Regions from separate parts of the Homo sapiens genome. Here all the other regions are linked to region 2. The links come from fine-mapping of genetic effects on gene expression. A gene starts in region 2. Each other region holds a variant in brackets. All regions are shown on one strand. Distances are between the middles of the regions.

The links. PIP is the estimated chance that this variant, and not a neighbour inherited with it, causes the effect. A credible set is the group of variants that fine-mapping cannot tell apart.
Region 1: its variant is the best candidate, but not a certain one, in a credible set for the expression of POLR2C in monocytes (Fairfax 2014, PIP 0.65).
Region 3: its variant is the best candidate, but not a certain one, in a credible set for the expression of POLR2C in monocytes after LPS (Fairfax 2014, PIP 0.73).
Region 4: its variant is the best candidate, but not a certain one, in a credible set for the expression of POLR2C in monocytes after LPS (Fairfax 2014, PIP 0.52).

Annotation. Positions count from the first base shown.
Region 1 is chr16:57,508,678-57,513,677 of GRCh38, forward strand. CCDC102A (coiled-coil domain containing 102A) reads right to left here. Exons shown (of 9, transcript NM_033212.4): 9 at 3,504-4,193. The coding sequence ends at 4,064. Among named protein-coding and RNA genes, the nearest start is that of DOK4, 25 kb to the left of the region's middle. RefSeq lists enhancers at 1-357, 1,053-1,553. The variant CTTAT/C (reference allele first, on the strand shown) is at 1,897.
Region 2 is chr16:57,460,205-57,465,204 of GRCh38, forward strand. It overlaps POLR2C (RNA polymerase II subunit C), which reads left to right and starts at 2,475. Exons shown (of 9, transcript NM_032940.3): 1 at 2,475-2,606; 2 at 2,825-2,874. The coding sequence starts at 2,521. It overlaps COQ9 (coenzyme Q9), which reads left to right. Exons shown (of 9, transcript NM_020312.4): 9 at 385-1,066. The coding sequence ends at 420. RefSeq lists an enhancer at 2,333-2,627.
Region 3 is chr16:57,392,278-57,400,312 of GRCh38, forward strand. It overlaps a transcript of CCL17 not described here. Among named protein-coding and RNA genes, the nearest start is that of CCL17, 8.5 kb to the right of the region's middle. The variant G/A (reference allele first, on the strand shown) is at 3,628.
Region 4 is chr16:57,305,961-57,312,172 of GRCh38, forward strand. No RefSeq gene overlaps it. Among named protein-coding and RNA genes, the nearest start is that of TRL-CAG2-2, 8.5 kb to the left of the region's middle. The variant T/C (reference allele first, on the strand shown) is at 3,387.

The DNA.
Region 1 (5,000 bases), 48 kb after region 2:
TCTAACACGCTAAGAATGAGCCCAGTAGACCGAGTTCTGAAGGGCTGGTGGGACTTTGATGAGTGCAGGGCAGTACTCGGGGCAGTAAGGAGGTCGGCATGGCTGGAGCTGCAGCGTCTGCAGAGTAGAGTGTGGTGGTGAGGCAGAGGGCAGGGGCCACATGGGGCCTTGCTTTGGAGGGTGGGGTGGCGACCCATGATCAGGAGCGTGGGCCAGGTGCGGTGGCTCATGTCTGTAATCCCAGCACTTTGAGAGGCCAAGGCAGGTGGATCACTTGAGGTCAGGAGTTTGAGACCAGCCTGGCCAACATGGTGAAACCCCGTTTCTACTAAAAACAAACAAACAACAACAACAACAACAAAAAACAGCTGGGCGTGGTGGCACATGCTTGTAATCCCAGCTACAGGGAAGGCTGAGGCAGGAGAATCTCTTGAACCTGGGAGACAGAGGCTGCAGTGAGCCGGGATTGTGCCCCTGCACTCCAGCCTGGGTGACACAGACACACATTGTCTCAAAAATAATAATAATAAATAAAAACAATAAAGGAGTGTGGGCTCTGGCCGGGATCCCAGTTTCATGTCTAGTCAGCTGTGTGGCCTTGGAACAATCACTCCATCTCTCTGAGCCCCTGGATCCTCAGCATAAAATAGGATGATGATGGTGACACCTACCGCGTGTGGCTGTTGGGAATGATCAGTGAGACGATGCCTGTGAGGCACAGTGGGGTGGGAGGGGCGCTCAACACATTCTAGCTGTTCTTGGCAGTCACCCCTGGAGTGACCAGGAGCCTGCAGGGGATCAGAGCCCGCGAGTGACATGTGCTCTTGGCCTGGCTACATCTCATGCTGGCGGGCTCAGCACCTCCCCTCTCTCTGTTTCCTTACTTGCTCAAAGAGAAACTGGACTAAGCCCGAGGAAAAATCTTCAAATGCCTCCAAGAGTGGGGCAGTAATTTAAATGAGTGAGGGCAGTGCAGGGGAAGGCTGCAGGGAGTGGTGGGGACTGCGGTGCCCAGGGTGCCTGTGTCCCACCCCAGGGAGGAGCCTCCTCTCAGCCCAGCAGCTGTAGCCATGTGGGAGTGAGTCCACGCTGGTCAGAGATGCTAACTTCTCAAGAGAGGGAACCCCATGGCTTTGTGGGAAAACCTCCCATTACTAATGTTAGCAACGCATTAAATACTTTTTAAAGTATCAAATGAGGCAAAGCTAATGCTTCTTTGGGCAGTGGCCACCATGAACACTAGGTGACTTTCTCTGCAGGTAAGCTGGGGAGCCACAGAAGGGCTGTGAGCAGAAGCAGCACACGTTCCAGGCTGGGACCATCTCCAAGCCCTATCTGCAACCGTCCCTCCCCTCCCGAGGCCTGTTTTCTTGTGTACCATGGAGGTGGGAAGCCAGACCCTCTCCTTGCTGACATTCTTAGGAGCAGTCTGCCTGGGAGATAGGGGCTGTAATGAGGCCCCTGCTCAGTGCTATCTCACAGGTGGTGCCAGGGAGTCTGGGGGAGCCTGGCCACGCCAGACAGGGTCTGCTCTGTGTCTGGGAATGGCAGGTCTGGCAGGTCCAGCCGGAGGTGGCTCTTAGAGCTAGTGTCAGTGAGGGCCTGGCTCCTGCCTCCTAGCTCTTCAGGGTCAAAGGGCAGCACTTTCAGCCTTTTCTGGGACCAACTTCCTATTTGGGAGAGAAAGCAGACAGATCCCTGGCAGGAAATGACCTTCTTCTCAAAGCCCTGTTTTCCACTGGCGCTGACTTTCCACTGGCCACAAAGCAGGAGTCCCCGTGGTTGTCTCACTCAGCCTCCCCATCCCCCTCAGAGCCCAGGGGCTTTGCCATGGCAGCAAACCCACCTCGCTAACATCATTAATTTAGTGTTGGCAACAGAAAATTTTTCAGTGCC[CTTAT/C]TTATTAGCGCCCAGCTGGGCTCCTGGGTCTGCCTCTCTCCTCTTCACAATCCCCAGAGCTCCTGGTGACCCTGAGACCCAGCACCAGGTGTCCCTGGTGTCCCTGGGACAGCTCTGAGCATTGTGGCCTCATGGCTCCCTCTTAACTAGGCCACACCGAGAGAAAATCATTTAGTGCAGCTCTCCCACCCCTAGCAGGCAGCCCCTTTGTCAACCGAATTTAACTGCTCTTTGGGGCCAGGCTGGAGCCCTAGCCTCTCCTTGCACAGCCCTAAACACAGGGAGCTCACCACCTTCTTTATGCTAGAATAATCCTGGCAACGCTTCCTTCTGCAGAAAGCAGGCCCGGGTACTGAGAATTTACCTAAAGGGTCCCATCAAAAGAGCAGATGCCCCGAAAGCCACTTTGACTGTGAAAGATCAAAAGTGTATGCTACCGTGTTTCTTTTTTTTTTGGAGACAGAGTCTTGCTCTGTCGCCCAGGCTGGAGTGCAGTGGTGCAATCTCGGCTCACTGCAAACTCCACCTCCCGAGTTCAAGCGATTCTTCTGCCTCAGCCTCCCGAGTAGCTGGGATTACAGGCGCCTGCCACCAGGCCCGGCTAATTTTTGTATTTTTAGTTGGGACAGGGTTTCACCATGTTGGCCAGGCTGGTCTTGAACTCCCGACCTCAGGTGATCTGCCTGCCTCAGCCTCCCAAAGTGCTAGGATTACAGGCATGAGCCACCATGCCCAGCCTGCTACCATGTTTCTAATCACTGTTACCATCAGATTTAACATAAATCTGCTGGTTATAGAAGGTATAGAAATTAAATACCAAAAATAAAACTGCCTGTAATTTCGCTATGTAGGGCAGGGCTGGGGGGAAAAAAAGGGTTTGTAATTTATTGTGTCCACATCTACCTCTAGGTAAACTTCCATCAATACTTGAACTTCATCCCCTGCGCCCACCTGGCAAATCCCTCCTCTCCAGGGAAAACTTTTAGGTATTTAATATAACTAACCTTTACCGAGCTCTGGGTTAACCTATCTAATTCTTGTGACAGCTCTGAGACATCTTATAAATGAAGAAACTGAGGCTCAGAGAGGGCAAGTAACTTCCCAGAGGTTGCACAGCTAATAAGGGGCAGAGACATGAATCCATCGGGTGCCAGAACTGAAGTCTCTAGAGTAGGCATGCACTGTACTTTCTTCCTCCTCGCCACAGGAGTGGATACCAGACTGCTCAGCAGCTCAGATGTTTATTCATTCATTCTTTGTGGGGTTTTTTTTGAGACCGAGTCTTGCTCTGTTGCCCAGGCTGGAGTGCAATGGTGTGATCTCGGCTCACTGCAACTCCCACCTCCTGGCTTCAAGCGATTCTCCTGCCTCAGCCTCCTGAGTAGCTGAAATCACAGGCAATCAACACCATACCCGGCTCATTTTTGTGTTTTTTTTTTTTTTTTTTCATTTTTGTGTTTTTAGTAAAGACGGGATTTGGCCATGTTGCCCAGGCTGGTCTTGAACTCCTGGGCTCAAGCAATCTACCTGCGTTGGACTCCCAAAGTGCTGGGATTACAGGTGTGAGCCACCGTGGCTGGCCTCATTCATTCATTCTTTCTTCTTCACATTCACTCATTTATTAAGTTACTTGACATTCCTGAGCTCTGGTTCAGCGTCAGGTGCAGGCCGATGCCGTCCCCCACAACCCCCGCCCACATCTGCCATACTTTCAGATGCCCCAAGAACTTGAACTTCATTTATTACAAATAACTGGGTTCACTGCATTGTATGATGAACAGCGAAGCCTAGAGAGGCAGCCCAGGGTGGGGCTCCAACAACTGCCCCCAACATGCCCAGCCCTGCATGAAGTCCTGGGTGGGTGAGGTCATCTGGACTGGGCCTTGGAGCTGTCCTGTATTTATAAAACCAAATGGGTCCAAAGACTTCTGGGTGTGCGCGCGCGCGCGCGCGTGTGTGTATATATATATATAAAACATAGGCTTCCTTTCCACAGGGCGTTGGTAGGTGGGACTGTTGACGCCATCCCTGGGAGAGAAGAAAGTCGGCTGTGGCAGGGACTGGTCCCAGAGTGAGCCTAGGCACTGCATCAGTTTGAGTGGCTGGTTAGCCTGGACCCTGGGCAGGTATGGGGCGGCCCATCCTGCCCAGCCACAGGAAGCTCTAGGCCACCTGGATTTGCAGGTCCTCGTCCTCGTCCAGGTCACTGGTTCCATCCTCGGCCTCCTCGGTGCCAAAGCGAGCACTGCGGATCTTCCCGAAGAGGGGAGCGTTCTGCTGCTGCCTGCGGAGCCTGTGGGGTGGGGGTGACAGGAGGTTAGAGCAGCCTGGCTGGTAGTCCCCCGATAAGGTGGCTGCAGCTGGTGCTGGAGCAGTTAAGCCTTCCCTGGTGCTTTCCCTGCTGTCTCATCTCCTGTAATCTCCTTATATGATAGAAGTGCCATTATCACCCCCATTTTACAAGCAAGGAAACCGAGGCACAGAAAGGTGAAGTCATTTGCTCAAAGTCACACAGATGGTGGGGAGTGGGGCAGAGCTCTGAACTGAAGTGGGTGGTGCCAGAGCAGCTGGGCGGTTAGAGAGGTGAAGGAGCTGGCTCAAGGTCATGCTGCAGGATTTGAACCCAAGCCTGGCTCTCAGAGCACAGGCAGCAGAGTTGGTTGGTGTGACAGTGCAGGGTGGGCTGAGCCCTCTACATTCCCAGTGTCAGTGAGAAAGGGCTCAGCCCTAGTTCTTCCTCACATTAAAATTCCTAAAGTCAAAATTTACGAGGAAAACTTTGAGTCTAAGAAGAGCTGGTGAAGGAAATGCCGATCCCTCCCCCAACCCCCCAGCAAAGTGGCCGCCCCGGCTGCATCTTACTGGAAGACATGAATTATTAACACGTAAGGGAGGGGCACAGGCGGGGGCCTCCATTACTGCACAGTGATTTAGTGAGCTGTCCCCGGAACATTAAAGCACAAAAAGTTGGAAAATAAAACGACACAGCGGTCCTGGGTGGCCCCACCCTCCCCGATGGAAGCACTTGAGAGGCCCAGCAGGGCCTGCCTGCCCACTTCTGGAGTTTATGGCTCCTGAACAATGTGACCCAGACTGCGGG
Region 2 (5,000 bases):
AACAATAATCTAATAATAAGGCTGACAATGGTTCAGCCCTAGTGTCTTGATTCCAAAAACCTCACTTCTTTATTTTTTCCTGTCATCAGGAGATATCACTGACTCCTGGGACCCTGGTATATCAAGTCTCTGTATCATAGCCACACCTGCCACCTTGCAAACCTGGATCTTGGCCAGGTGCAGTGGCTCATGCATATCATCTCAGCGATTTGGGAAGATCGCTTGAGCCCAGGAGTTTGAGGACAGTCTGGCCAACATAGCAAAACCCTGTCTCTATGCAAAAAAGAAAAAAAAAAAGAGAAAAAGAAAAGCTAGGTCTTTTCTATTAGAGTCTAGAGGCAAGGTAAGCCCTCACTATTCTCTTTATTTCCATTCCCGTGTCAGCTCAAGAACTTGACAGGTCTAAACCAGCGTCGGTGAGAGGAAGGGGTATAAGCTACAATGCCTAGAAGAGAATGAGCGGACAGATTGAAAGAGCTTTGAAAAGTATAAGGTGCCATCCACATAACCTGGTGTTCACGAGAACACACTAAAGGACTCCTGAGTCACTACCACAGCCACCTGGAAACCACAAGGCATTTGATGCTACCGTTCTGGTCAGGGATTGGGCTGCTTCTTCAGTTCCTAATACCAGACCAAGCCTCCTGATGCCTTTCTGCACTGCAACTGTGTGATTGAAAAATGAGATGTTCATCCAAGCAGTCAAGCCACAGAAACCCAGCATGTCCCTGTCACAATCTCATGGGCACCTTGATCATGTCTTAACCTTCCCTTAACCTTGGGGCTCCCAAGCCAGAGTCAAGGTCTGACGCCACCTCAAGGTGACAGCTCATCTCCAGCACAGCACAGGCGTGTGCACACAGAGGTGTTCCTTGCAGCCCCCTCCCTCTCAGGTGTCCTGAGATGCTGTTCCTGGGAGCCCCCTCAGAAAACTGCCTCACCTGAGACAAGTGCCTGCTGGACAGAGGTGTGATTCCAGGCCTGGTGTCACATGACACCAGCATGCATTGCAGGATTATTAGTGTATTTTGAGTCTGTAAAAATAATAAATATGTTTGAAGTAGTTTCCCATTGTGTAGTTAGTTTCCTTATCAATCATGATAGGTATCCAGGACCCCAGAGGGAGACAGGTTAAGTTATGGCAGCCAGGAGACCTGTGTTCTGGCGCTGCCACTGCCTAATACATAGTGGTAATTATAGTACCTCTGCGTCTCTGGGCTCAAGTCTTCCCATCAGTAAAATACGGGTAACAGAAGCCTTCCCACAGACCATCAGCTCCCTTGGCTGCTCTTGTCTGACGATTTTAGTGGTACATTCTTTAGCCCCAGTAATTTTCTCAGCCTCTACACTGGCTGGGTTCCCTTTGCACGTCTGGTTAGCTCTGTTTTCTGCTTTGCTCTCTTCTGCCTGTCAGCTGAATATTAATGGGGGAAAGTCAGCAACTAATTGAATTTCAGATCTCTTGTGGGTCTTCCACTGGATCTTTTTTGCACCTCTCAATTCCTTGTATCTCTTGACATCCTGTGAAGTTTTCGCAGTAGCTGTTCCAGTTTTCATTGCATTCTCCTTTTTCCTTCATAGCATCCATCTTACACTCAGCAGACAACCATAATTCTTAATTTACCAAGATGACACAGGTTATGGAGCAGGGTTCCATCAGTGCCCACCCTCTGTTTCAGGAAGAGGTGTCACTCTTTGCAAAGGCAAACTCCTCTTTATCTGGTTACTCTTCTCCCAACTCTTAAATGTATTTCCTGCCACGTTCTATTTTAGAGCTTTTCTCTGTTGGAGCAGCAGCCACTTTTTTTGAGGCCCATTTAAACCTCTCTCCAGTCTGTTTAGGGGACTTCAGTAGTTCTTTGTTGAGCATGCACCCCACATGGTGCCCACTGCCAGGCACTGGGGATGCAGAGACAAAGAGTTCCCACTCACCCACCACAGCTACACAGACTGTAGAGGAAGCATTAGGTTAAAGAACATTGTATCTTTTCCTGAAGTTTTCAGAAGTGCATGGTCCATACTTGAGACTGCAAGGGAAAGGGTATTTACTTATAATTCAGGTATACTTTGCTAAAATATACATTCATATTAAAATATACTTTTGTTTTTCTATAGATGTACAAGTTCTTTTTAAGTGCTTCATAGTATTCCATGTGTGTATACTCCACCAGGTCTCTTATCAATGGACAGTACAAACAGTACTACCACGAACGTCCCTGCACTCGTATCTTTGTTTACAACTGCAAGTGTTTCTGCAGTATGAATTCTTAGAAGTGTTACTGTTAAGTGAAGGACGTATGCGTGTTTTGCCAAACTACCCTCCGAGATAGCTGAATCTGGTACATTTTAAAGCAGGAGGCCGCAGAAGACGCTCGGCAGTTCTGGCCTCCGAGCAGCAGGCGGCGCTGTGAGTCGTCTTTGCGGAAGCCGCGGAGGCCTCGCTGACTGACTTCCGGTGTTGGCGGTGGCGCCGCGCAGTCACCGCGGAGCAGACGCGGAGGCTGGTGGCCCCTGGGCGAGATGCCGTACGCCAACCAGCCTACCGTGCGGATCACGGAGCTCACTGACGAGAATGTCAAGTTCATCATCGAGAACACCGACCTGGCGTAAGGCTACCGAGGGAAGAGGCTGGCGGCTCTGGGGCGCCGGGAGGCCCAAGCCGGGGCCCCGGGGCAGGGGGCGGGGGTGTAGTGGGGTGGGGTGGGGGCGATGTCCTTCCAGAGCTGCCCCCCTGCACCAGGGCTTTAGCTTTGGGAGCCTGCGGCGCGGGCCCAGCCTGTCGAGGCTGCAGCGCCTTCACGCCCCTTGGCTTTTGATCTTTCAGGGTGGCCAATTCGATTCGGAGGGTCTTCATCGCTGAGGTTCCCATAATAGGTAAGCGACTCCCCTTCCTCGTTCCCGCGCCCACGGGTTCCTGCCCCGCTCTCCACCCACACACTCTTTGGGGCTCCTTCCAGTCCTTGGTTCGGGCTGAGGGTGGTAGTGCTGAGAAAAGTGCATTGCTGGAGACTTGACCATACCCTGTGCCCTTGGCTCAGTGGCCGCCTCCCTGGCGCCCACGGGCCACTTAGGTCCACCCTTGTCCTGGGTATGCATTGCTGAGAAGCATGGGTTTAGCAGTGTGCAGACTTGGGTTCAAATACTGTTTTCACTACTATTGTTACAAAAGTTTTTAAAATGTTTTCAACTTTTATTTTGGAGTCAAGGGGTACATTGGTGCAGGTTTGTTGCCTGGGTATAGTGCGTGATGCTGAGATTTGGGGTATAAATGATCCTTTCACCCAGGTAGTGAGCATAGTACGCAATAGGTAGTTTTTCACCCCTAGCCCCACTGCCTCCCTTCCAGCTCTAGTAGTCACCAGTGTGTTTATTGTCATCTTTATGTCCGTGCGTACCCAGTTTTAGCTCCCATGCGGTGTTTGGTTTTCTGTTCCTGTGTTAATTCTCTTAGGATAATGGCTTCCAGGCCGCGCTCGCGCCTGTAATTCCAGCACTTTGGGAGGCCAAGACTGAGGAACACCTGAGGCCAGGAGTTTGAGACCAGCCTGGCCAACATGGGGAAAGCCCGCCTCTACTAAAAATGCAAAAATTAGCCAGGTGTGGTGGCTCCCACCTGTAATCCCAGCTACTGGGGAGGCTGAGGCAGAATTGATTGAACCCAGAAGGTGGAGGTTGCAGTGAGCCGAGATCATGCCACTGCACTCTGGCCTGGGCAATAGAGTGAGACTCCTTCTCAAACAAAAGAAAATAAAAAAGAAGATAGTGGCTTCCAGCCACGTCCATGTTGCTGCAGAGGACATGATTTCGTTCGTTCTTATGGCTGCATCACTTACTGCTTTTGTGAAACTTGGGCAAGTTATTAAACTTCTGTGTGCTGCAGTTTCCTCATCTGTAACATTCGGCCACTAATGATCCTTATCAGGGTAATGTTAAGGATTAAGTGAGGTAATCCATATAAGTGCTTTGTGTTTAGTGAGTGCTCAGTGCTGGTAGATGGCTTTTTTATTAATCTATTCCTTCAACAGCATTTATGGAGCATGAAAGTGGCAGGCATGGTGGTAAGCTCTGGGAATGCAAAGCTGTAGAGAACAGGGTTTTTGCCCTCATGGAGTCCACAGTGAGGTTGTAGGGGAGAGATGAATCCACAGACAACACTAAAGCAAGGTAGATTTTGATCAGTAGTTCAGGAGAAGCATAGCTGTGGTGCACTTGGCTCTTAGAGGAGGGAAGATCAATTTCTGGTCTGGTTCCAGCCACTCTGCTCCAGGTGCTTAATGCATTGATTATACTTGTATGAAATACTTCAAGCATTTCTGAGAGTCAGCTCAGAGAGTTTGGATTAGGCAAAATAAATATAAGTCATAGCTGTGGCATCAAATATTCAGACTTTTAAGGAAATAAGCAGGCCAAATGATTAGGCAAGAGAACATTGTAGTTTATCCACTACCACCACCACCCCACCCCCCCGCCCCCCAGTCACTTCTTAAATTCAGCTTGGAGTGCTGGACCTCCCCCTGCCTAAGCACTTCATGCCTCTGGACCTCAGTTTCATCAGGAGTCAGGTGAGGGAGTTGTACTTCATGATGCAGCCCTGCCATTCTGAGTCTAAATGCCTCTTTCCCAACAAATTCAGTTCTACAAATAATATTGAGCACCCATGCTAGGAATACAAAGACATCCCAGGACCTGCGTGAAGGAATTTCTGAAGCTTGAGGTATAGACATAACATACACAAATATGACACAAGGCACACTATGACAAGTGTCTTGAGGGAAGTCTGAACAGAGTTTTGTGAGAGAGGAGTTGAAAGGGAGGGAATGTCACATCTGTAGCATAGAGAGCAGGCAAGGCTTAGTTTTCAGGAGGCACAGAGGATCTTAACCTGTACAGCAAGGAGGGGAAGGGTGTGCTGGAGGGAAGGGCTGGGGGATTAAAGAGGCAGAAAAGCTTGGGTCAGGGTTCTCTCAGTTGGCTTGGACTGGGGAAGCAATGGGAAGCAT
Region 3 (8,035 bases), 66 kb before region 2:
TATCTGGAATTCTCACTGAGTGGAGTTGGAAAGAGGAAAGGCTTTACAGTTTCTCTGAAATACGTTGGTGCTCGAGAGTTTTAATGGCTCGGATGTTGTGATGGTTAATGTTGAATGTCAACTTGATTGGATGCAAAGTATTGTTCCTAGGTATGTCTGTGAGGGTGTTGCCAAAGGAGAGCAACAGTTGACTCAGTGGACTGGGAGAGGCAGACCCACCCTCAATCTGGGTGGGCACAATCTAATCAGCTGCCAGCACGGCTAGAATAAAAGCAGGCAGAAGAACATGGAAAGACTAGACTGGCTTTGCCTCCCAGCCTACATCTTTCTCCCATGCTGGATGCTTCTTGCCCTCCAACATCGGACTCCAAGTTCTTCAGCTTTGGGACTCAGGCTGGCTTCCTTGCTCCTTGGCTTGCAGATGGCCTGTTGTGGAATGTCACCTTGTGATCATGTGAGTCAATACTCCTTAATAAATTTCCCTTTATATATACATCTATCTTTTTAGTTCTGTCCCTCTAGAGAACCTTGACTAATACAGATATGCTTCAGCAGACAAGGAAGTAAATAGGGAAAAGAATAGTAACATTATCCAGCCTCACCTCATTGCCAGTTGATCTGGGTCGGCCAGTTTTGCAAGCACCTCCTAAGCCCAGAAGCCAAACCAGGGTAACCTGGGCCTGTGGGCACAGGAATCAGGTGTGTAGGCACAGCTCTAGGGACCAGCAAGGGCAGTTTCTGTGTCTCAGCTTTCCTGGAGGGTTTCCATGGGTCAATTGGCTTTACCCTCATCCTCCTACTGCCAGTTCCCATCCTTCTCACCCTCTCCCAGCACATTTGTCCACAGATTTTTTTTTTTTTTTGAGATGGATTCTCGCTCTGTCACCCAGGGTGGAGTCCAGTGGCACACTCTTGGCTCACTGCAACCTCCGCCTCCTAGGTTCAAGCAGTTCTCCTGTCTCAGCCTCCTGAGTAGCTGGGTTTACAGGCACACACCACCATACCCAGCTGATTTTTTTGTGTGTATTGTTTTTGTTTTTGTATTTTTTGTATTTTTAGTAGAGATGGGGTTGGCCAGGCTCGTCTCAAACTCCTGACCTCAGGTGATCCACCTGCCTCCCAAAGTGATTGGTGCTGATTGGTGCATTTTATAGATTTTTAAGTATTTTTTTTCTTTTTTCTTTTTTCTTTTTCTTTTCTTTTTTTTTGAAACAGAGTTTGTGCTCTTCTTGCCCAGGCTGGAGTGAAATGGCACAATCTTGGCTCACTGCAACCTCTGCCTTCTGGGTTCAAGCGATTCTCCTGCCTCAGCCTTCCAAGTAGCTGGGACTACAGGTGCGTGCCACCACGCCTGGATAATTATTTGTATATAGTAGAGACAGGGTTTCACCATATTGGTCAGGCTGGTCTCAAATTCCTGACCTCAGGTGATCTACCCACCTCGGCCTCCCAAAGTGCTGGGATTGCAGGTATCAGCCACCACACCCAGCTGATTTTCTTTATATTTCAAGTCAGTCTTCTCTCTATCTGAGAGAACTTACCCCTTAACTAGTCCCCTGGCCAACTTCTATTCATCCTTTGTCTCAGCTTAGATGTCACCTCTTCCAGGAGGCCTTCCCTGACTTCTAAGTTTAAGGAAGGTTTCCTGTTAAGCGGACTCATGGCCCCTGGGGTCTTCCCTCATAACCCTCACGTGACCTGGCTGTACCTGCCTGCCCCACTGTGTTTCTGAAAGATCTGTGAGGGAAGGCATGGATGTGCCCTGTTTCCCTTTGTGTCCCAGTGACCACTGCAGATCCTGGAAAGGGTGAAGAGGGGAAAGGCCAGAGCCCACCCATCTGTGTCTTTTGACACTCCTTGTGCCGTGCCCCTTTCCAACTGATGGAAAAGCCCACCTTGTCCTTGTGGGGCGCTGAATTTCAAGGAATTTCCTGGTGGAAAGTATTTAACTCCCTCAAACGACTGTCAGAGACTGAAAGTGATCATCTGTGATGTGTTCGAGTCACTCCTGAGCTCCTCGAATCCTCCAATTGTTACAAAGTAATGGACTTGCTGCCCGATGTGAGTAGAAGCCAATATTATAGCACCACTTTTGCGAAAAGAAAAAGCTTTATTCCAAGTCACCTGGCAAGGAGACAGGAGACAACACTCAAATCTGCCTCCCTGATCCCTGGGTGGGTCAAGTTGTTATGGCACTGTTAACTAGTCCCAGGGATGCCAATGTGGCCGGTTGCCACGTTGGTGGTGCTAACTCTCAGGAGGTGGAAGTTTTCTCTGATTGCACCGGGCCAGGCTACATGACATGCAGTTTTGGCTCCGTGCCATCTGTAACAACTCAAGCAATGGTAAACTAGTTTGAGCTGGTCCTGTGGTTATGCAATCACCAGCACATCCCGGTCAAGACATTGTCCCCAGGCAGGCCAGAATCCCCAGGAAGCCTGGACTGGGTCACACCCTGCTTGTCGCCCAATCTCTCCAGAGGAGTGAGGAGGCAAGGGAGAATCTAGAAGCTCTGGAGTCTCAGTGTGTCTCCAGTTGGTTCCTGCCAGTGGGTTCATGGTCTCGCTGACTTCAATAATGAAGCCGCTGACCTTCGCAGTGAGTGCTACAGCTCTTAAAGATGGCACGGACCCAAAGAGTGAGTGGTAGCAAGGTTTACTGTGAAGAGCAAAAGGACAAAGCTTCCATAGCATGGAAGGGGACCCAAGCAGGTTGCCGCCGCTGGCTGGGGGTGGGCAGCATTTAGTCTCTTATTGGCCCCACCCATGTTCCATTTCTGTCCTATCAGAGTGCTCTTTTTTTCAATCCTCCCCACGATTGGCTACTTTTAGAATCCTGCCAATTGGTGTGTTTTACAGATTGCTGATTGGTGCATTTTACAGAGTGCTGATTGGTGCATTTTACAATCCTCTTGCTAGCTACAGAGCACTGATTGGTACGTTGTTACAGAGCGCTGATTGTGGCATTTTATAATCCACTTGCTAGCTACAGAGTGCTGATTAGTGCATTTTTACAGAGTGCTGATTGGTGCATTTTACAATCCCCTTGCTAGCTGCAGAGCGCTGATTGGTGCATTTTGCAATCCTAGCTACAGAGTGCTGATTGGTGCGTTTTACATTCCTCTTGCTGGACAGAAAAGTTCTCCAAGTCCCCACTCGACCCAGGAAGTCCAGCTGGCTTTACCTCTCAATCCCCGCTCTAAACAGGACACCCCAACTGCTGTTGAGAATTGGGTAATGACTGCTCTAGCTACTTCCTGCTGGATAGGGACAAAGAAGGGGCCCTGCAGTGGTAGTGTCCTCCAGAGGGGAACTCTCTGGGCCAAAGGGCCAGTGGGTCGATCCAGGGGTCCTCGGTAGAAGTTGTTAGTTGAGCTCATTTGGGGTTCCATTTTTAAAACCATCTATAGCTTGATGGCCTCAATCCTGGAGGAAACAAATTTGACAAGGAGGTCAAAAATACAGGGCCCGAAGGCAAATAATAGCAAGATGGCTGTCACGGGACCTAGAAAAGGGAGAAGCATGTCGCCCAACTCCAGAAGTGGGTATAAGAGTTTGAAAGGCATTGTCTGATTTCAGAAGCCTTTTCCTGTAAACACCGGGTGGTGTCTCATACTATCCCTGACAG[G/A]TTACTGTAAAAACAACACTCTTCCCCTAAGAAGGTACAGAGTCCTCCTTTCTCAGCAGTGAGGAGGTCTAGGCCTCAGTGGTTTTGGAGAGTCACTGCTGCCAAAGAGTCTATTTGGGACTGTAGAGTAAGGATAGATTTTGTTATTTCTTGCAAACTATCTTAGAGAGTGTGTGGTAGTAGGATAATGAAGTAGATACACTGGCTATTCTGGTTCCTGTAACAGTGGCCATTCCTAACCCTATAAGTAGGGGTATTAGTTGTATTGCTCTGCACTGACAGACTTGAGCTTTGAGGTGCACTGATAGGGTCTGATTTCCTGGGGCAATGTCAATGTTGGGACTTAGGAAGACTAAGGTGCAGGTGCCTGTCCAGTTGGTGGGGAGGCAGATATAGGTTGAAGTTCCACATAAGAAGAATATGCCTTGGCTGGGTACACAGAACTGGTTGTGTATGTTAAAAAGGTGTGTGAGTTTGTTGTTTTCATTTTCCCATACTCCTAGAGTACTTGCCAAGGTAGCTCCAGTGAGCGGCTGGAAAGGAGTGTTGGGAGCAAACTGAGTGGCTCCCTGTGTTCTATTTTACCATTGGAGAAAAAATCGTTTTGTATCTACTAGGAACCATTCAAGAGAGTGATTGAAATAGGGGATGAGAAGGCATTCACTAGTGGTGGGGGCGCTGCTGCAGGGGGTCCAGGGGTGAATGGTCATGCAGGGAGTATGTTTGCCATTATTAAACCTAGACTGTTTGTTAAGCAGGAAGGAGGTGATGATTTTTGGAGGCTCTGAGAAGCGGACAAGCCATCTGAATGGAGCTGTTTGGGTGAGTCGGAAGTTACTGTGATCAGTTGGGGCTTGAAGTTGTAGGGTGTAATTACACTGATGGGATAGTAGGTGCCCCAGGGGCAGTCCTGATAACAGGTTGCATTGGATGCATAAAGGGGCTTGGAAAGTTAAGACAGTATTCGTGGTTGCAGGGCCATGTATGGTTTTTTCATTGCTTGTGTAATAGGTTAGGTTGGAAATGTAAGAGTGTAAAAGCTGGATTGCGAAGCTTTGGGGAAGCCCAAATCTAGGAATTATTTCATGAATTAGGACTTTAACCACTTCCTGATCCTTCTCTGTCTTGCAAGGGAAGGCTTCTATCCAATTTGTAAAGGTTTCAACACAGACTAACAAGTATTGAAATCCCCTTGACTTAGGCATATGAGAGACGTCTAACTGCCAGTCCTCTCTGGGATGGTGCCCTATTCTTTGTTGTCCCAGAGGGGCCTTACGATGGGCCAAGGGATTATGCCTTTGGCACACATCACAGGCTTTGACTACTTGTCGGATGGTCCGGAGGAGATTTGGCCCTGTAAATAGGGATTTGGCCATTTGATGAGTGTTCTCAATACCCATATGAAAACTTTGGTGGAGGGTCTTAAGTATTTTCCACTGGCTGCCCTCTTCTGTCGTTAACCATCCCGAGGGGAGAAAACTATGCCCCCATGAAAGTCCCCATTCTGTTTCAGTCAGGGAATACTGGGGCTTAATCTCTTGGAGAGGGTTGTTCCATACCAAGGGTCCTTCTCTAGGTATTTCTAATGGGAGTTTCCACCTGGCAGCAATTTTGACCTCAGCGTCTGCCTGACGGTTTCCTTCTGCCTTTTCTCCTTCACCTTTTTGATGGCTTCAGCAGTGTAAGACTGCCACTTCCTTGGGGTCTTGCACTGCATGCGATAACTCCATGATTTTCTTGTGGTATTTAATGGGAGCTCCCCCAGAGGTTAGGAACTCCCTTTCTTTCCATATTGCAGCATGGGCATGTAGGATTAGATAAGCACACTTGCTATCTGTGTACACATTTATTCTTTTTTTCCTTTCCCAGTTCTAAGGCTTGGGTAAGTGCCACTAGTTCTGGTAACTGGGCGCTGGTCCCTAGGGGAAAAGGCTTACTTTCAAGTACTGTTACATCAGTAACTATGGCATAACCTGCCCTTTGTATCCCATTCTCCGCAAATGAACTTCCATCAGCATATAGGTTAAGGTCAGGATTAGCTAAGGGGACTTCCAAGAGATCCTCTTGGGTGGCATAAGTCTGGGCTGCAATTTGTTGGCAGTCATGCTCAATTGGTTCCCCATCCTCTGGGAGAAAAGTAGCAGGGCTGAGGGCCGCACAGGTGCATATTTGAAGCACCGGTCCCTCAAGGAGTAGCACCTGGTATCTAAGCAGATGGTTGTCTGATAGCCATAAATTTCTTTTGGCACCTAGTATGCCATTTACATCATGAGTAGTCCAGATGGTGAAATCCTTTCCTTGTATTATTTTGATAGCCTCTGATACTAACATGGCCACCACCGCAACTACCCATAAACAGTGAGGCCAGCCTTTAGCTACTACATCAATTTCCTTACTTAGGTATGCCACTGGTTGTGGGGTTATTCCTCGAGTCTGAGTAAGGACTCCAAGAGCTATTCCCACTCTCTCTGTGATGTGTAAAGAGAAGTTTTGTCCTCTGGGAAGGCTTAAGGCTGGAGCTTGTACTAGGGCCTGCTTTAAGGTTTTGAAGGCTGTTTCTGCCTCTGGTTCCCATTCTACTAGATGGCCCTCTGGGTCTCCTTGATTAGAGTATAGAGAGGCTTGGCCATCTCGCTGTATCTGGGGATCCATAGTTGGCAAAAGCCAGTGATCCCAAGGAACCCCTGCAACTGTTTTAATGTCTTAGGGTGAGGATAAGCCAGTATAGGCTGTATTCATTCTTTGCTGAGGGCCCTGGTTCCTCTGGCTAAGATTAGGCCTAGATATTTGACTTGTTGTAGGCAGAGCTGGGCCTTCAATTTAGATGCCTTGTACCCTTGATTAGCTAGAAAGTTCAAGATATCTAGAGTAGCCTGCTGGCATGAGGCTTCCAAACTGGTAGCCAAAAGTAAATCATCCACATACTGAAGGACCAGAGTCCCTGAACTTGAGAAGTGGCCGAGATCTTGGGCCAGTGCCTGACCAAACAGATGAGAGCTATCCCTAAACCTTGAGGCAAGACCGTCCATGTAAGTTGGGATGTGTGGTCTGTGGGATCCTCAAAGGCAAAGAGAAACTGGGAGTCAGAGTGCAGGGGAATGCAGAAGAAGCCATCCTTGAGGTCCAGAACAGTGAACAATTCTGCTTCCTCTGGTATTTGAGAGTAGGGTGTAGGGGTTGGGTACAGCTGGATATAGAGGAATTACTGCCTCATTGATGAGTCTAAGATCTTGCATCAGGACTCTCTGAGTGCCAGAGCTTCTGCCACCTGGATGTTTTCCTGGGCCTCCCCTTCTCCCCACCCCTGGTTCTCACCTGGACCTGTCTGACCTGTTTCCAGGTGCTTATACATTGCCACGACCACCATCAGATCAATGAAGGAGAAATCCCATCCACATGGCTGGGGCCCTCTTTCTAGAGTGTCAGGGGTAGGTAACCACCAGGGCAACAGCAGTGGTGGCCTGGGGAGAGGTGGAGGAAAGGAGTCATTAGTTTATTGCCAGAGATGCTGATCAATAAGACATTGACCTTCTTTTTTTTACTTATTTATTTTTTTTATTTTTGGAGAAGGAATCTTGCTCTGTCGCCCAGGCTGGAGTGCAAAGGTGGGATCTTGGCTCACTGCAACCTCTGCCTCCTAGGTTCAAGCGATTCTTCTGCTTCAGCCTCCAAAGTAGCTGGGACTACAGGTGTGTGCCACCTTGCCCAGCTAATTTTTTATTTTTAGTAGAGATGGGGTTTCACCATGTTGGCCAGGCTGGTCTTGAACACCTGACCTCAGGTGATCTGCCCCCTTGGCCTCCCAAGTGTTGGTATTACAGGCGTAAGCCACTGCTCCTGGCCTGACATGGACCTTCTTCTCATGAGGTTCACTGTCCACATGATATCCCTGTGAGCCTTTGGATGCATTTTCTCATTGTCATCCCTGTCACAGCTCAAAGATGAGCTCGTGCTCATAGTGTTACCAAAACACCATGGGTGCAGTCTAGGTCCTGCTGCTCCCCACACAGAAAGCCAATCACTGAGACACCAAGTATTGCCAAGGAAGACTTTAATCGAGTGCTGCAACCAAGCAGATGGGAGCTCAGTCTGAAATCCATCTCCCTGATTGACTAAAACCAGGAGTTTATACAGCAGAGAAGAAATGTAACAATGTATAAGAAAACAGGAACTGGCAGGACGCGGTGGCTCACGCCTGTAATCCCAGCACTTTGGGAGGCGGAGGTGGGCGGATCACGAGGTCAGGAGATCGAGACCATCCTGGCTAACGCGGTGAAACCCTATCTCTACTAAAAATACAAAAAATTAGCTGGGAGTAGTGGCGGGCGCCTGTAATCTCAGCTACTTGGGAGGCTGAGCTAGGAGAATGGCGTGAACCCGAGAGGCGGAGCTTGCAGTGAGCTGATAT
Region 4 (6,212 bases), 150 kb before region 2:
AGATGGGATTACAGGCGCCCACCACTACCCCCAGCTAATTTTTTTTTTTTTTGTATTTTTAGTAGAGATGGGGTTTCACCATGTTGGCCAGGCTGGTCTTGAACTCCTGACCTCAGGCGATCCACCTGCCTCGGCCTCCCAAAGTGCTGGGATTACAGGTGTGAGCCACCATGCCTGGCTGGCCAATTTTAATTTGAGCCCTCGTGGCTGAGTGCATGGACTCTGGGACCACCTGAGTTCAAATCCTGCTTCTGCCATTTGCTAGCTCTGTGACCTTGGGGGAGTTACTTAGCCTCTCAGTTCCCCAGTTTCGCCATCTGTAAAATGGGCTTAGTACTAATATCTATCTTAGAGGATTTTTGAGAAGATCAAATAAGTTAATACATGCTGAGCACTTAGAGTGCCTGGAGCAGAGTAAATGCTTTATGTGTTAGCCCAGCAAAATAAAACAATGTGACTTTTTTATTTTATTTTATTTTTTTTGAGACAAGATCTTACTCTGTCACCCAGGCTGGAGTGTAGTGGTGCAATCACAACTAACTCCAGCCTCGACTGCCTGGGCTCAAGTGATCCTTCCACCTCAGCCTCCCGAGTAGCTAGCACTACAGGCACAAGCCACCACGCCTGGCTAATTTTTGCAAAAAAACATTTCTGTAGAGATGGGGTCTCAATATATTGCCTAGGGTGGTCTTGAACTCCTGGCCTCAAGCACACCTCCCACCTCAGCCTCCCAAAATGCTGAGATTATAGGCATGAGCCACTGTGCCCAGCCTAATATGACAGTTCTTGTGCCTGGTGAATACTATGGGGCCAGTTTGACCTGCCAATCTGACTTTGTGGAGAGAATCTCTAGCCTGCCCTCCCCACAACCACAGTGCATCCTGACTGCCTCACCTGAGTCAGCCGTGACCAGCTTTCCGACCTCTTCCCCCACCTTCATCTCCCACCTCCATTTATCTGGTTTTCCAATACAAAACGTACTCCCTCTGCAGGGTCTATGAAACTGGCCGTTTCCTCTGTCTAGAGCCATCTTCTTCAAATGACTCTTCCTCAGCGCGTGGCTAAAGCAGCCCCCACCTCTCCTCCCACTCATTTGCTATCTGGCCACCCTATTTGAGATCCGAAGTCACCGTGTTCATTGGCTGGCTTATCTGTTGATCGTGTTTCTCCCTGACTAGGCTCTGGGCTCTGCGAAGGCAGGGACCTTGGCCATCTAGTTCACCAGGGTATTCCTGGCAGGTAGGGCATTCCTGTCACATAGCAGGAGCTTGGTAAATAAATAGTACATGAGTGGGTGAACGGACAAAGGGATGCATGGATGGATGGATGGACGGACGGACAGACGACTGAGTCAATTCTCTGGGCTCTTCAAGTCAGCTTTTTGTGCCTCTCTAGTGGAGCTCAGGAAGCCTGGGTTCCCCCCTGGGAAGGCCATTCATGACCCTTGCCTTCCCCAGGAGTCTTCATCTCTGAGTCCCGTGCCTAGCCCTCCCCATTGGGATAACAACCCTTTTGCCTGCCTGGGCTTGGGGACCTCCAGACCCTCGGGAAGGTCCATCTGCTCTGTCTTTCTGGGCTAAAAGGTTCCTGTGTTCTGCTCAGAGCTGCACCAGGGCAGAGTTTTCTCTCGGGGTGGGCTGCATCCTTAGTGTGGGGTATGGGATGCAGTGTCTGAGGTCGAGGCCTCTGGATGGTCTCCTGATGTGCTTCCTATGGCCATATCAGTAGCAACAGGTGGAAATACTGCTGTGCTCCTTGGTAAATGGGGCTGCAATGAGCCTCCCATAGTCCCCACGACCATCCTGGCCCTTCCCCTCTCCGGGATTCCCCACAACCCCCAAAACTCCTGGGCACCCAGCACTAAGGCTATTATCTGCTCTCACTGGCATGTGCCCTACTAGCCATCACATCTTTTGAACATTTCCGCCAGACTAAGATCATGTCTTTCCTGTTCAATCTCATACTCCAGTACTCTTGGGAGCCTCTTTTTATTCAATCCAACCTGCATTCTGGTCACTTTTCACTCTCACCTCACATCCCTCTCCCTCCCCATCCTGTGTGGCCCCCTTAGTCTTTGGGTACCAAACCTCCTGATTCTCCTTTGGGAAACCCCTCCGTGGCCACTGTCAGTCCCATCAGGAAAGGTGAGGCTGACTCTCCTCTCCTCTCATGCTGGGAATGGTCAGACGACTCACATCTGCTAGTCAGCCATTCCACCCATCTTGCCACAACACTGATTGGTTCAGAAATGAGTGCAGAATTCCAGTTGGTCCAGTGGGAGTCTGGCCTGGGGGAACACTTGGAATAGAGAAGCTGGGTGCGGGGTCAGGTGGCTGAGCTGGTGGTGGCTGTCTTTGCTATGCCATCCAGAACCTACTTGAGAAGGAAAGCTGGAAAATATACAATGTCAGCTCTCTGACGACATTGACGACATTGGAAAGCCTGGAGCTAGCTGTCCCTCAATTTATCCCTTTTGGTCTTGTCAGTTTCATGAGCCAATGCCCTTTTTCACTTATGCCAGTTTAATGTGAACCTCTGTCACATGTAACCCAAAGAAAAATACAGCCTGGACCTGTACCCTCCCACACAGTAGTCACTCACTGGCTCTTGAGCATTTGAAATGTGGCCAGTCCAGGCCAGGTGTAGTGGCTCACGCCTGTAATCCTAGCACTTTGGGAGGCCGAGGCAGGCAGATCACTTGAGGTCAGGAGTTCGAGACCATCTTGGCCAACATGGCAAAACCCCATCTCCACTAAAAATACAAAAATTAGCTGGGCATGGTGGTGTACACCTGTAATCCCAGCTACTCAGGAGGGTGAGGCAGGAGAATTGCTTGAATCCGGGAGGCAGAAGTTGCAGTAAGCTTAGATCATGCCACTGGACTCCAGCCTGGACAATAGAGTGAGACTCCATCTCAAAAAAAAAAAAAAGTAAATAATATAATATAAAATAAAATAAAAAAAGAAATGTGGCCAGTCTGAATTCAGAGGGATCATGAGTGTAAAATACAAAGTAGGTTTCAAAGACAGTATGAAAAAAATGTAAACTGTTTTATTATTAATTTTCAATGTAATTATACTTTGGCCATGTTGGGTCAAATAAAAATATATTATTAAAATTAATTTCCACTGTTTCTATTTACTTTTTTCAATGCTGCTACTAGAAAAATTTAATTTCTGGCTGGGTGCGGTGGCTCATGCCTGTAACCCCAGCACTTTGGGAGGCTGAGGCAGATGGATCACTTGAGGTCAGGAGTTCAAGACTAGCCTGGCCAACATGGTGAAACCCCATCTCTACCAAAAATACAAAAAAAGTAGATGGGTGTGGTGGCACACGCCTTTATTCCCAGTTACTCAGGAGGCTGAGACAGGAGAATCGCTTGAACC[T/C]GGGAGGCGGAGGTTGCAGTGAGCTGAGATTGTGCCATTGCACTGTAGTCTTGGCGACACAGCGAGACTCTGTTTAAAAAAAAAAAAAAAAAAACGGAAAAAGAATAAGAAAAAGAAATTGAATTTCCTGTGTGGCTTGTGTCATATTTCTATTGGGCAGTGCTAGCTTAGATGGCTCCTCTGCAAAACATCAGGAAACAAGAGATCAGATCCTGCCTGATTAAATGATGCAGACTTAGTGGAAGAGAAAGAACTCCAGGGATGCCAAAGAGGAGGAGGTGTGCTGGAGAAGGTGGGCAGAGAAGGACCGGTCTGACCTATATGGGCTGAGAGGAGGGGGAAGGCATTCCATGGAGCCCATCATGAGCAAAGGCCTAGGGGTGGGACTGAGAGAAGATGGGTCTCAGGAGAACCAAGGATGGTATGGAGTCCAGTTGAGATAGGGCATCAATTTCTCCAGGAAAGCCAGGGATCCTGGGGAAAGTGCAATAAAGAGGGACAAATATTCCATTTTCCTTTCAATCACTACACATTTTCTATGGGCATCATTTTAAAATCATTATTTATTTTTATTTTATTTATTTATTTTTAAGATGGAGCCTCGCTCTGTTGCCCAGACTGGAGTGCAGTGGCATGATCTCAGCTCGCTGCAGTCTCTGCTTCCTGGGTTCAAGAGATTCTCCTGTCTCTGCTTCCGAAGTAGCTGGGATTACAAGCGCACACTACCACGCCCGGCTAATTTTTGTATTTTTAGTAGAGATGGCGTTTCACCATGTTGGCCAGGCTCGTCTCGAACTCCTGGCCTCAAGTGATCCACCCGCCTCAGCCTCCCAAAGTGCTGGCAAGACAGGCATGAGCCACCAGGCCTGGCCTTATTTATATTTTAGAGAAAGGCCTTGCTCTGTCACCCAGGCTGGAGTGCAATGGTGCAATCTTGGCTTGCTGCAGCCTCAAACTCCTGGGCTCAAAAGATCCTGCTGCCTCAGCTTCCTGAGTAAGCTGGGGCTACAGGTGTTTGGCCACCATGTCCCGCTAATTGAAACAACAACAACAAAATTTTTTTTTTTTTTTTGTAGAGACAAGGTCTACGTTGCCCAGGCTGGTCTTAAACTCCTGGCCTCAAGCAATCCTCCTGCCTTGGCTTCCCAAAGTGTTGAGATTACAAGCATGAGCCACTGCTCCTGGCCCTGTGTGCATCGTGAGAGCCCAGAGCTGGTGCAGCCATTTCTCCAGCCTTCCAGAGTCAGAGCTAGCCCCTAAACTGCTTGGACCCAGTGTTGCAGGCCATATCCGGGACGCAAACCCATCCAAGTGGGGCTTCCAAGGAGGGAAATGGGGACCACAACCCTGGGGAGGGGAAGGAACCCACAGCTGAAGCCCTTTTCCACCTGCGTGAAGCCACTCAGAGTTTTGACATTTCCTCTGGAAATTCTTTATCTTCAAATAACTCCCCATTTCCCTCTGGATTTTGATATGCCTAATGCTATTTTCTCCAGGCCTGTTTGTTGCAGTCTTTCTCTATGGTTGCTGGGACTCAGATCCTAGAAGACCAACCTATGTCCTTTGTCCTGGGGACCTCAGCAGAGGATGTGCCAGCAGGGGCACAGGTGGGTCTGCCCAGGGGAGGTGCCTGGACAGGCAACAGGTGGACTCTTGGAGTCCCAGGAGGTCATGACAGGGTGGTGCAAGTCGCGTGCCCTGTTCCCCAGCCAGAGACACGGTGGGCAGGGCAGGGGAGGGTGGGGGCTGGGGGAGTCATGTTTCCCAAAATGCACTGCTTTTGCAACGTGAAAGGAAAAAGAGCCATGAAAATTACTTTTCATTCTAAAAAAAGAGCATTACTGATGCCTCCTTTGTTCTCCAAAGGTTTCAGCAGATATACAGAGCAAGTTTCTTCATTTATCAAGTTCCTCATAAAAATGAGAGTCTGATGCAAAATTTTTCTAGGTCAGGTTGTCTGAGAAAGTTTCCAAGTTGCTGAAGGAGCTCAACACCTTCACCCGCCCTCAGCTCTCCTCTGGTTCCCTCCCACGGGAGCCTTTCCTGACCTCCAGCCTGGGTCAGCTCCCCTGTCTGCACCAGAACCCTTGGCATGGTGTGTGTGTGTGTGTGTGTGTGTGTGTGTGTGTGTGTGTGTGTGTCAGAGAGAGAGAGAGAGAGGAGAGTCTTAGGCTACGTGTGTCCCCACCAGACCCCACACTCATGTGAGCTGGGACTCTTCAATCCCCACAGATCTTGGTGCCTGCTTCCCTGTAGGAACTGTTTTTGTTTTTGAGACAGGGTCTTGCTCTGTCACCCAGGTTGGAATGCAGTGGCTCGATCATGACTCAATGCAGCCTCAACCTTCTAGGCTCAAATGATCCTCCCACCTCAGCCTCCCGACTTGCTGGGACTTTAGGCATGCACCACCAAGCCTGGATAACTTTTGTATTTTTTGTAGAGACAGAGTCTCACTATGTTGCCCAGGGTGGTCTCGAATTTCTGGACTCAAGTGATCCTCCTGCCTTGGCCTCCAAAAGTGCTGGGATTTCAGTCACTGAGGCTGGCCTCCTTGTAGGAAGTATTTATTAATTGAAAGAACAAATGAATAAATCCCCCAATAAATCCCCAATTCAGAGTGTTTCCCCCGTATGTTCATAGCACCCCAACTAGGGCCCTCAGTACTTGTGCTCAAGTCCTCAAGATTACATTTTGGGGATCCAGTTCTCTCCTGGTTAATGTCTGACTATGGAAGAGAAGGATGTTCCTCTCTCCACCTGCCCAGCTCTTCAATTGACCTCTTGGCCATCAGATTGAGTGGCCACCCTGTGCCAGCCCCAGAGACCC